2 separate regions of the Homo sapiens genome follow, and region 2 is linked to region 1. Evidence: fine-mapped expression QTL. Tissue or cell type: lung. Region 1 holds a variant in brackets; the other region holds the start of a gene. All regions are shown on one strand. Distances are from middle to middle.

Evidence for each region. PIP is the estimated chance that this variant, and not a neighbour inherited with it, causes the effect.
Region 2: it holds the start of CNTN6, and the variant in region 1 is the best candidate, but not a certain one, in a credible set for the expression of CNTN6 in lung (TOPMed, PIP 0.77).

What each region holds. Positions count from the first base shown.
Region 1 is chr3:1,384,556-1,390,975 of GRCh38, forward strand. It overlaps CNTN6 (contactin 6), which reads left to right. Exons shown (of 23, transcript NM_001289080.2): 20 at 1,056-1,242. Among named protein-coding and RNA genes, the nearest start is that of CNTN6, 290 kb to the left of the region's middle. The variant C/G (reference allele first, on the strand shown) is at 3,097.
Region 2 is chr3:1,090,462-1,096,881 of GRCh38, forward strand. It overlaps CNTN6 (contactin 6), which reads left to right and starts at 2,563. Exons shown (of 23, transcript NM_001289080.2): 1 at 2,563-2,659.

The DNA.
Region 1 (6,420 bases):
CACTCAATCTTTTTCAACTTGCAAATTCAGTGATTCACAAAATGGGTAACATAATTTATTTAACTTTGGATTTAGAATAAATGTATAATCCTAAACATTCTTAATTTTGCCTATATATATATATATATATATACACACACACACACGTATACATATACATACTATATATACACACATATATATACATATATACACATATATATACATATATATACACATATATATATATATATATATATATACACACACACACACACATATATATATATATATATAACCATAATCCTCTGATTCCAACAGAAAGTTCTACTCTCAGGACAGGTGTCTTTTCCACTCCATGCCAAGAATGCCTTACCTCTTATCTGAACCCTAGTTACTTCTCAAATTTCATCCCTAGTCGCCTCTTCTCTCTGAGCTCTACTCCCATCAATTCCTGATGTATTTTGTCAAATTCTTGTAGCATATTTTTTCTATACCACTTCTTTGCAATGCATTCTGTGACTTATTTTCACATACACTGTGGATTCTAACCTCTTAGCTAGATGATAAGGGGCTTGAAAATAGGTACTTAATTTATTCTCTTTTTTTTTCAATGTACCTAAAACAATGCTAATGCAAAGGTAGGGTTCAGTATAAATTGAATTATTAATTAACCTGTGATTCAAATAACTCTGAAAAGAAATGCCAATAGCAAGACATTATAATGAAAGTCTTTGACTGATTATATACAAATGTGTTTTTGTCTGACTTGTTATACATCATTTGCTAAAGCTGGTAACCTTTAGATAGCTCATAAAATACTTTATTTTGGTAATCTAAAAAATCACGTTCTCTAATTTCCATTGTGAATTTGCATTCATGACTTTTTTCCTCATAAATATTAGAGAATAACAATTTTGTTGTTGTATAACCATTTTAATTAGAAAACGTTTTTGTCATCTATACTTCTGTCTTCTTCCCATATTCCTTGTGGTTGTGGTTGATAGTTGTTGGTAAAAAATGATTGATAGTTATTGGGGAACAATAAATTGCTTGTTTTGGTTTTTAATTATCAGGTCTTATACTGGACAGATGACTCCAAAGAATCCATGATAGGTAAAATTAGAGTCAGTGGAAATGTCACAACCAAAAACATCACGGGGCTGAAAGCTAATACCATCTACTTTGCTTCCGTAAGAGCTTACAACACTGCTGGGACAGGGCCCTCAAGCCCCCCAGTCAATGTTACCACCAAAAAGTCTCGTAAGTATGCATACACTCCAGGAAACAAGATTCATCTGTGAAGAGCAACCTATTCCTTTGCTTGATGTTCATTTCATTCCCACACCTCATTTCTTTACTAATTGGTTACTTTGGTTAGTTGGTTTGTCCCTTAAATATGGATACTTGTTGAAACCTTTTGGTAACAATCAAGGTAATTGTTTTCATATTTCTGGAATTCCAAAAGAGGAATATTCCAAGTATATCGATGAAAGACAGAAGAGCATAATGTTTAAGACTGGCCCTGACGCCCTCCTTCTAAATGCATTCAAAAACTGACCTCCTATCCTTGGAACGTTAGGTGGTATTTATCTTTGAGTCTCAGTTGCCTACCTATAAAATGAGGAAAAAGTCATATTTATGTTTTCATAGGTTTTGTTCAAGATTGAAAGAGATTATTAATAATAAGTGTCCAGTACACACCTTAATATATGCTCAGTAAATGGTTTTTTTGTTTTGTCATTTGAGTCCGAGTATATTCACATGTGATCCTACAACTGTCAGACACCTAGATCTTTCCTTTTAGGATACCTTATTACTACAGCTTACTTGGAAGTCCCTGAAATCTAAGAATGAACTCTTCTGTTTTGTCTTATATCCCCTGATAATCAGCCAGGTGATTTCACAGAATCAGAATCTGCTACATAAAAGATGAATGTTTTTCATCTTTTGGTGATTGTTGCTGCCTTTATTTTCTGACTGAGTCTGGTAATGCACAAATATTCCATAATACGAGGCACAGCAATAAATTGGGAAAGGTCTGATCATCCGACTTAGTTGTTCCTGTAAGATGATTTTTTTGTGGTTGAATAATATTTACATATTCCTTATATATTATTAATGAACACAAATTATTCATAAAATCAGACTTTTTAAAACACATTTTTTTGCTCTCTGAATCCTGATGAATGAAAGATAACAAATATAGTTGCTGAATTTTGAGAAAGACTAAGACAAATTCAGTGCCACTTACAAAAATCTAGTTTACCTATACATGCCGTAGTCTAATTACACCACCATATTTGGAAAGAAGAGATGGTTAAGAAGAGTTTGAAAATAAAGTTATATTAAAGTTATTCCCCTTATGCGTATATATGCGTATATTTGTCATGTCCAAAAGAAGTTAGTTAGGAACCATCTCAGAGAATAGGCCCTTGATTAAATAGATTATCCAGTTATTTCCACACAACCAGATCAACTGTCAGATATTCATGTTCCAATTCTGGGTACATCATTGACTCACAACTTGAAATAGGACAAGGCATTCCATTTTTTTGCTTTCATGTTCTTATCTATTTATTAAATAGAAATTATCTCTGTCCTCACTCCTTCCCAAATTACCCATGAAGCACAAACAAGGTACTGATTCTGGAAGCATCTTAGAAAATACAAAGTGCTGTGGAACTGCAAAAGCCTGTGGAGCAAAAATTTTTGAACCAAATTTCCTCCAGTCCACCCAGTTTTAGACAGGCTGGGCTGTGAGTTATTTTCAAGAATGGATTAGTTAACAATGAAGTTCTATTCCTTTTCCTGTTTTACTCAATGTTGACTAAATCAATGAAGTTGTTGCCAGATAACTTGGATGTATGATTTGCTTCTTTGGTCTTCCTGGAGTGGTTTAGCTTCTTTCAGCTAATCTGCAAATCCGAATGAAAATCTCCAATCAATCAGCAGTTTTCAGATTACCTAGACATTTAGTTCTAGTTGACTGAGAGATGCCAAACTCACAGAAACTCTTGTGTGTAGGGGGAGGAGCCAAGATGGCCGAATAGGAACAGCTCCGGTCTACAGCTCCCAGTGAAGACGCGTGATTTCTGCATTTCCATCTGAGGTACC[C/G]GGTTCATCTCACTAGGGGGTGCCAGACAGTGGGCGCAGGTCAGTGGGTGAGCGCACCGTGCGCAAGCCGAAGCAGGGCGAGGCATTGCCTCACTTGGGAAGCGCAAGGGGTCAGGGAGTTCCCTTTCCAAGTCAAAGAAAGGGGTGACGGACGCACCTGGAAAATTGGGTCACTCCCACCCGAATATTGCGCTTTTCGGACCAGCTTAAAAAACGGCGCACCACGAGATTATATCCTGCACCCGGCTCGGAGGGTCCTACGCCCACGGAATCTCGCTGATTGCTAGCACAGCAGTCTGAGATCAAACTGCAAGGCGGCAGCGAGGCTGGGGGAGGGGCGCCCGCCATTGGCCAGGCTTGATTAGGTAAACAAAGCAGCCAGGAAGCTCCAACTGGGTGGAGCCCACCACAGCTCAAGGAGGCCTGCCTGCAACTGTAGGCTCCACCTCTCGGGGCAGGGCACAGACAAACAAAAAGACAGCAGTAACGTCTGCAGAGTTAAATGTCCCTGTCTGACAGCTTTGAAGAGAGCACTGGTTCTCCCAGCATGCAGCTGGAGATCTGAGAACTGGCACACTGCCTCCTCAAGTGGGTCCCTGACCCCTGACCCCCGAGCAGCCTAACTGGGAGGCACCCCCCAGCAGGGGCACACTGACACCTCACACGGCAGGGTATGCCAACAGACCTGAAGCTGAGGGTCCTGTCTGTTAGAAGGAAAACTAACAAACAGAAAGGACATCCACACCAAAAACCCATCTGTACATCACCATCATCAAAGACCAAAAGTAGATAAAAACCACAAAGATGGGGAAAAAACAGAACAGAAAAACTGGAAACTCTAAAACGCAGAGCGCCTCTCCTCCTCCAAGGGAACGCAGTTCCTCACCAGCAACGGAACAAAGCTGGACGGAGAATGACTTTGACGAGCTGAGAGAAGAAGGCTTCAGACGATCAAATTACTCTGAGCTACGGGAGGACATTCAAACCAAAGGCAAAGAAGTTGAAAACTTTGAAAAAAATTTAGAAGAATGTATAACTAGAATAACCAATATAGAGAAGTGCTTAAAGGAGCTGATGGAGCTGAAAACCAAGGCTCGAGAACTACGTGAAGAATGCAGAAGCCTCAGGAGCCGATGTGATCAACTGGAAGAAAGGGTATCAGCAATGGAAGATGAAATGAATGAAATGAAGCAAGAAGGGAAGTTTAGAGAAAAAAGAATAAAAAGAAACGAGCAAAGCCTCCAAGAAATATGGGACTATGTGAAAAGACCAAATCTACGTCTGATTGGTGTACCTGAAAGTGATGGGGAGAATGGAACCAAGTTGGAAAACACTCTGCAGGATATTATCCAGGAGAACTTCCCCAATCTAGCAAGGCAGGCCAACATTCAGATTCAGGAAATACAGAGAACGCCACAAAGATACTCCTCGAGAAGAGCAACTCCAAGACACATAATTGTCAGATTCACCAAAGTTGAAATGAAGGAAAAAATGTTAACGGCAGCCAGAGAGAAAGGTCGGGTTACCCTCAAAGGGAAGCCCATCAGACTAACAGCAGATCTCTCGGCAGAATCTCTACAAGCCAGAAGAGAGTGGGGGCCAATATTCAACATTCTTAAAGAAAACAATTTCAACCCAGAATTTCATATCCAGCCAAACTAAGCTTCATAAGTGAAGGAGAAATAAAATACTTTACAGACAAGCAAATGCTGAGAGATTTTGTCACCACCAGGCCTGCCCTAAAAGTGCTCCTGAAGGAAGCACTAAACATGGAAAGGAACAACCGGTACCAGCCGCTGCAAAATCATGCCAAAATGTAAAGACCATCAAGACTAGGAAGAAACTGCATCAACTAACGAGCAAAATCACCAGCTAACATCATAATATGACAGGATCAAATTCACACATAACAATATTAACTTTAAATGTAAATGGACTAAATGCTCTAATTAAAAGACACAGACTGGCAAATTGGATAAACAGTCAAGACCCATCAGTGTGCTGTATTCAGGAAACCCATCTCACGTGCAGAGACACACATAGGCTCAAAAGGATGGAGGAAGATCTACTGAGCCAATGGAAAACAAAAAAAGGCAGGGGTTGCAATCCTAGTCTCTGATAAAACAGACTTTAAACCAACAAAGATCAAAAGAGACAAAGAAGGCCATTACATAATGGTAAAGGGATCAATTCAACAAGAAGAGCTAACTATCCTAAATATCTATGCACCCAATACAGGAGCACCCAGATTCATAAAGCAAGTCCTGAGTGACCTACAAAGAGACTTAGACTCCCACACATTAATAATGGGAGACTTTAACAACCCACTGTCAACATTAGACAGATCAATGAGACAGAAAGTCAACAAGGATACCCAGGAATTGAACTCAGCTCTGCACCAAGTGGACCTAATAGACATCTACAGAACTCTCCACCACAAATCAACAGAATATAGATTTTTTTCAGCACCACACCACACCTATTCCAAAATTGACCACATACTTGGAAGTAAAGCTCTCCTCAGCAAATGTAAAAGGACAGAGATTATAACAAACTATCTCTCAGGCCACAGTGCAATCAAACTAGAACTCAAGATTAAGAATCTCACTCAAAACCGCTCAACTACATGGAAACTGAACAACCTGCTCCTGAATGACTACTGGATACATAACGAAATGAAGGCAGAAATAAAGATGTTCTTTGAAACCAATGAGAACAAAGACACAACATACCAGAATCTCTGGGATGCATTCAAAGCAGTGTGTAGAGGGAAATTTATAGCACTAAATGCCCACAAGAGAAAGCAGGAAAGATCCAAAATTGACACCCTAACATCACAATTAAAAGAACTAGAAAAGCAAGAGCAAACACATTCAAAAGCTGGCAGAAAGAAAGAAATAACTAAAATCAGAGCACAACTGAAGGAAATAGAGACACAAAAAACCCTTAAAAAATTAATGAATCCAGGAGCTGGTTTTTTGAAAGGATCAACAAAATTGATAGACCGCTAGCAAGACTAATAAAGAAAAAGAGAAGAATCAAATAGACACAATAAAAAATGATAAAGGGGATATCACCACCAATCCCACAGAAATACAAACTACCATCAGAGAATACTACAAACACCTCTATGCAAAGAAACTAGAAAATCTAGAAGAAATGGATAAATTCCTCGACACATACACTCTCCCAAGACTAAACCAGGAAGAAGTTGAATCTCTGAATAGACCAATAACAGGAGCTGAAATTGTGGCAATAATCAATAGTTTACCAACCAAAAAGTCCAGGACCAGATGGATTCACAGCCGAATTCTACCAGAGGTA
Region 2 (6,420 bases), 290 kb before region 1:
AGTAAATTGTAAAAATCACAGGATATGTCTGCCAACTTTGTTTATCATTCGATTTTACTTTCTTGGTTAATTTTATTGCTACATAAATTTTAGCCTCATTTGATGATTGCTACAAGAAAATCTCCTGATATTTTCACTGAGATTATTTTAAAGCTAAAAACCTATTGGGAGATAATTGACTTCTTAAAAATATTGAGTGTTTTTGACCCATGAATGTGGCATATTTCTTTACTTATTTAGGTCTTAATTAATTTTCCTTAGTAATTCTGTGTAGCCTGTAGTGTACAGACCTTGTTTTAGATCCTTGATACCCACACCTCCTCCCCCAGTGTTTAAAAATTAATAAAATGAGAAGATATCAGCAAAGGGATCTGAGAAGGAGCAGGTAGTAAACGAGAAGAAAATTTAAGAAATTAAGCAAAAGCAATGCTTAAAGGAGGAGTACTTGGTAAACTGTATTACTTGTGAGTGATACATCAAGTAAAATTAGGACTAAGTTGACCATTGCATTATTCTATGCGTAATTTAATATTGACTATGACCAGAAACACTTATGTGGAACAGTGGGGACAAAAGACTAATCAAAGCAGATTCAAGATAAAATGAGAAAAGATGAATGGAGACAGTAAGTACAGAGAATTCCTTCAAGGTGTTTTACTATAAACAGAAGCAAGGAAATGCAGTAGTAGACAGAGGAAGACGGTATGTTAAAGGGGTGCTGATTTTTAAAATGGGCCAACTAGCAGCAAATCTCTTTGTTGTGATGCTACAGAAGGTAGGGAGAGTTGATGATTCCACAGAGAGAGACAAGTGGGTAGAATGGTCCCTTGAGTAGAAGACTATCTAAAGCACAGGTGGATGGCTTGGTCTAAGGAGGGAGCACGGTTCACCTCAAGTAACAAGATGAAGGGAGAGTCTGTGGTCACAGGGGCCAAGTATGTGACTAGATGTAGTGACAGGAGCTTATTGAAGTTTTCTTCTGGTTCTTATTCCTTTTTGGGTAAAATAGAAAGCAAAGCAATCAGCTGTCCTTGAATATGAGTCAGACTGTTGGAGATTTGAGTAAAGGGATATTCTTTAAGCTTGAATGAATTTCTTTCCACAAAAAAAAAATAAAGCCTACTACATAATGATTATTTTTCTTAAAACTCTGCAGAAAAAGTCATCTTGGCATTTTTACAAATAAAATATATTTTTATTCCTACAGAGCAAGAAATACTTCTATTTTTTTTAAAAAAAAAAAAAAGAGGCAATAAAAACAGATATTCTTTCTATAAAATTATTAGTCTAGTTTGCCTTCTTATGAATTGGGAGAAACAATAGGGTAGCCCATTTTGAGTTTACCTTGTGTTAGGAAGCATCATCTCCTTTCTAAAGCCTCTTATAATGTTGGTTAGACCCTGTGAAGAAATCCATAGGACATAGTCATAAAATGTAGTCATAGAAACCTTCTTGCTCATCAGATGAAAGTAAACTGAGGCCAAGAAATATCTTTTGACTTATTTCCATTTGATTTGGGGATTTCATTTTCTCAGTATCCACTTACTTTAAGATGCTAAGAGTATAATTTCTTTGTATGCCAACATGAAAATAAGTCCAAACTATCATTCTTTTCTCATGTTATAGTTATGTTTGTATGCACTAGAGTCTCAGTGTGCATGTATGTGTAATTCCTATTCCTTAGTTTTCATCCTTCAAGCAGTTAGTCCCTTCAAAACCCGATGACAAGACCCAAACATATTAAAAAGTTTAGTTGGAGGGCCCAGGGTGAAACACAAAAACAATTCTTCTTCTTACAGAGCTCTTAGGCAAACACATAGACACTTGTTCTCTGCCTCTGGAATTACAAATATGTTACTCGGAAAGCAGCAATACTCTTTTGGACTTGTTTGACTTCACTTTCTTTACCTGTCTTTAAGAAGCCTCATACACACATTTAAAAAATACAACTTATAAAGGTTTTAGTGATAGTGCATACAATCATTTGATTTTATTTCCCTTTTCTCTTCACCTTCACTAATAGGAGTTACTGGCATGCTTCAAAAAGCTTACATTTGAATACTGTCTAAATCAGTGCAGACCCTTGACCAGCTTAATCTTTGCTTGCAAATGACAATGCAGTGAAACCAGAGGAAGAAAAAAATTACTTCCTTTCCTGTTGGAAACCTAATAAGTAGTTAGTCTGACCCAGTTTTCAATAAGAGAGATTTTCTGATGACCCGACAGGAGTGACTATCTCCAGTCAAAGAAAGAGGAGGGTGAATTTAATCTTTCATGGCCCTGGAATGGCAGCTGCTCTCAGCTCTCTCTGATTCTGTGAAGGTTGATGAAGATAGAGCTGGCTTTCAATGTAGAAAGAATTTTCCTTTTGAATATTCCAAACGAGAGCTTTGCACATGTGCCTCAAGAACTGATTGTCTGGCTCCGACAGGAATGCAGCAGGAGAGGAGCGTATTTCATGCTTAAGACCAGAGAAGAGCCACGCAATACTCAGTGGATAAAAGGCTTGCAGTCCCAGCTGGGAAAAAGAGTCCCATTATCTCCCAGCTGCATAGACATTCCATACGGCTTGGTTCTGCCTGGACGCACAGCATGCCTGGCTGAGAGCTTGAAACAGAGTTCTGCAGAAAAACTGTAAAGATCCCGAGACATTTCCCTGGTAAGATCTGTAAGTACAAAATTGTGCTGTGTCTGCTGCAATGAGAATATTGCTGGGCAAGCTGCAGCTTTTCTTCCTTTCAATGTCTTTGTATTAGCATAACAGGTAAAAGCTGGGGTTGGGGGAGAAGTCACTGCTTTATTGATGCTGTGTTTCTATGATGCTGATGTTTAAAATGCATTTATTCCTTGTGTGGGAGAAATGTATTGAATCTGTATTCCGGGAGGTTAGGATCAAACCAGGGAAAGAAAGACTACAGGTATATTTCTCAGTGTTTCACTAGTCTTTGCTGCAGTAAAACTAATGGGCAAGACGGGATGACAGTGCTAATTCTGGGACTTTCAGATGGCTACACGCCCTTTCTGTAACGGCAGATGGGAAAATGTGATCGCTAAATGTTTTTTGTCTTTTTTTTTTTTTTAATCAAAGGGATGAGGGGTGGGGTTTGCAGTTCTCACCGGATGATTTAAAAGAATGGTTATAAAGTTTCCTAGGGGAGAATTTGGTAAGGGGAGCAAAGCAAGACTGGAGGTCATATGGGCTCACCAAATTTTGTCTGGCATTTTGCTTTATACCCAGCTTCTAGATAACAGCCTCTGGAGTTTCCTTTACCATTTACACCAGTTAAGTTGTCAGTATTAAGGTTCTTATAATACTTTATGAAAACTTTCAGAAGTTGATGACTTGGGAACAAAACTTTTAAGAGCTCTGAGATTAGCCACGTATAACCCATTATGTTAATGGGATACTGTAACATTGGGGTTTGGGGGGAAAATTGGAATTCATAGTTTTTGCTTCTCCAAATGAAAACTACTTATGTTTAAATAATCAGCATCCTGACTATGTCCTCTGAGAAACATTCACAGAATGACTAAATAGAAGTTATACTGAGAAAAAATAGAGTGAACAGTAGAATCACACAGAATCAATTTGGAAAATGAGGTATTCATAATTTTATCTACAGTGGCAATGTTTTCTGAAGATGTCTGTAAAAGAAGAAGCATATGCTGAATATTGAATTGCTTGTTTTGAGCAATTTTCATTTATCTGATGGGTTTATCATCTTTTTATTTTTGTTGTTGAAGGTTTCACCAATTTATGTGCATTGTATTTTATAAGGAAAGAAATGTTTAAGCAGACTCTTTTTCCCTCCTCCTTCACACACATGTGTAAACATACGCATGTTCACAAAACAAACATAAACATACAAAAATACTTACACAATTTGTGTAAAAAAAAAGAAATACAGAAGCATTTCATCTTTGATGTTTCAGTGGGGTTTCTTTTTCTTTTTTTAAGCAATAATCATGGCTGTGCAGTCCAAAGATTTCAAATATATAAATGTGGAAACTTTTATATAAAGCTTTATGTGAGGTTATATAAATGCATAACTTATCACATCTTAGCAAAAAAGTCAATCATTTATAAATGACTTCATTGCATTACTTCCTTTGAATATTTGTAGTGAAGGACCAGAATTTTTTTTTAGAATTTTTATGTAGCTTTCCTTAATGAAAACAAATTCACTTGTTTACTTAGAAAAGGATCACATATTTTCTCTGAGTTTAGAACCCCCTCTAAAAAAAATCAATTATGTTGTGAAAAGGATGTGTGGTATATTAAATTGATTGCATACTTCTGGGTTTTTTTTTTAGTAAGTAAAAATGCTCAGTAGTATAATAGTAAATTTGTACCTTTTAAATTCTTTTATGTGAGGAGAAGGAATACAAAATATTTGCTTATTTATTCACTGTTTATTTTAATAACATATTAATTGGAATGCAGAAGTATAAGTTCTACCTATTAAAAATGACTCAAACTATACATAAAAGTTCAAAAGGGAAAACCCATCACCTGTAAATAACAATCATGAAATTTGGCGACTATCATTGGAGACATACTGGTGCCTAAATTCAGATAAGATGAGAGATAAATACTTTTGTAAGAATGGTTTCTTACTATACACCTTTTAAAAAATAAATAATAAATATTTAGATAATATAGTCAATAATAGATACTCTTCTGTAAGAATGAGATCTTATCCTACACTTAAAAAAAAACAGAAATATTGGCCGCGCGCGGTGGTTCACACCTATAATCCCAGCACTTTGGGAGGCCGAGGCGGGCGGATCACGAGGTCAAGAGATTGAGACCATCCTGGCCAACATGGTGAAACCCCATTTCTACTAAAAATACAAAAATTAGCTGGGCGTTTTGGCGTGTGCCTGTAGTCACAGCTACTCAGGAAGCTGAGGCAGGAGAATCACTTGACCCCGGGAGGCGGAGCTTGCAGTGAGCAGAGATCGCGCCATTGCCCTCCAGCCTGGGTGACAGAGTGAAACTCCATCTCAAACAAACAAACAAACAAACAGAAAACAGAAAACAGAAACATTGAGTTTAATTTTTGATTTTAGATTTTAATTAAACTGAAAAAAGAGAAGTTGAAACAACATTGAAGAAATTGTTAAATTTCATGTATAGATTTCTCTCCAATGGAGATATTATGTCCAGAATAATACCCTTACAGTTAAGACCAAAAATTTTGAAAATAGAAATAGTTTGAAGATTTTTTTGGATGCACGTTTAAATAGTAAACAAACTTTTATAACCCTTGTTATGATAGTTAAATGCATTTGCAATGTGACTTGTCATCAACTCCACCCATACCACCTCAATTTAAACTACATCAGTTTTACATTACTGAGTACATACATTCTGGCTGAATTCCCATGGTCTCAGTTTAAACTTATTTCAAATTTGTAAGGAATTATCCTTTATCAACAGGCTTTTACTACCCAATTCACCATTTCTGTGTTCTTTATTTTCAATTATTTTTTGGGTTGTTAGATTTCAGTAAGTAGTACCTCTCCACCAAAGAAATAGTCATAGGTGCTATATTTTCTATGAGTTTGCATCTTGAACATGTATTTCTTTTGCCTTAGACATGCAAGATACGTTATCTTTCTTGGATCAAGCTTAATTTTTTCTTTTGGAAATGTGTAAATGTTTAAACATTTTTGGAGACCCTTCCTGTACTGAAAGTTGTTTTGCAACATTTTTAGGTCTGTCTGCAATTTCCGTCATTGAATGTGACTTGCTTTTTTTCTGATAAATGCCTACATGATTCTTTTGTTGTGTGTGTGTGTGTGAGTGTGTGTATGGGTGTTTGCTTTTACAGAATATTCCTGGATTTGTTCCATTTTCATTAACTTTTTTTGAGGTTTGCCCCATTAATTTAAGATTCTTTTATTTTAGGATTTGTTGTACTATTTCTTTTTTGTCCCTTAACTGGGCGTGGCCAAATTGTGGTTATCTTGCTTCTTTCTTTTCTTCAGGATCACCAATTTTGTACATGTTGTATCTCATTTGTCTACTTTCCACATCTTTCATATCCAAATTTCTTTTCAATTTTAATTGACAAATTGGTTATCTTCTTTATTTGAGAACCACTTGTTCTCTTGTTTGCCACTTGAATGAATAGTATAGCTTGCAATAAACCTATTAAGGCACAACCTTCTGTATTGTGATCTTGTAAATACATGTTTCCTTCTCTTAACACTCTAGCAATTTCCTCAGCTGGCAGGTTTTTGGGCAATCTGTATCCTCCTGAAAGTAAGAGAAAAAGAAAGTACTGATCGGTTTTCTCTGATGTCCCCCAAAGGTCCATGATTTTTAGTATTTGGCTACAGTGGAAATGGGCTTCAAGTCGTGTTTTGGGGTTTTGTCCACTAACATTTTCACTGAAGACGGAGGGTTTTTGC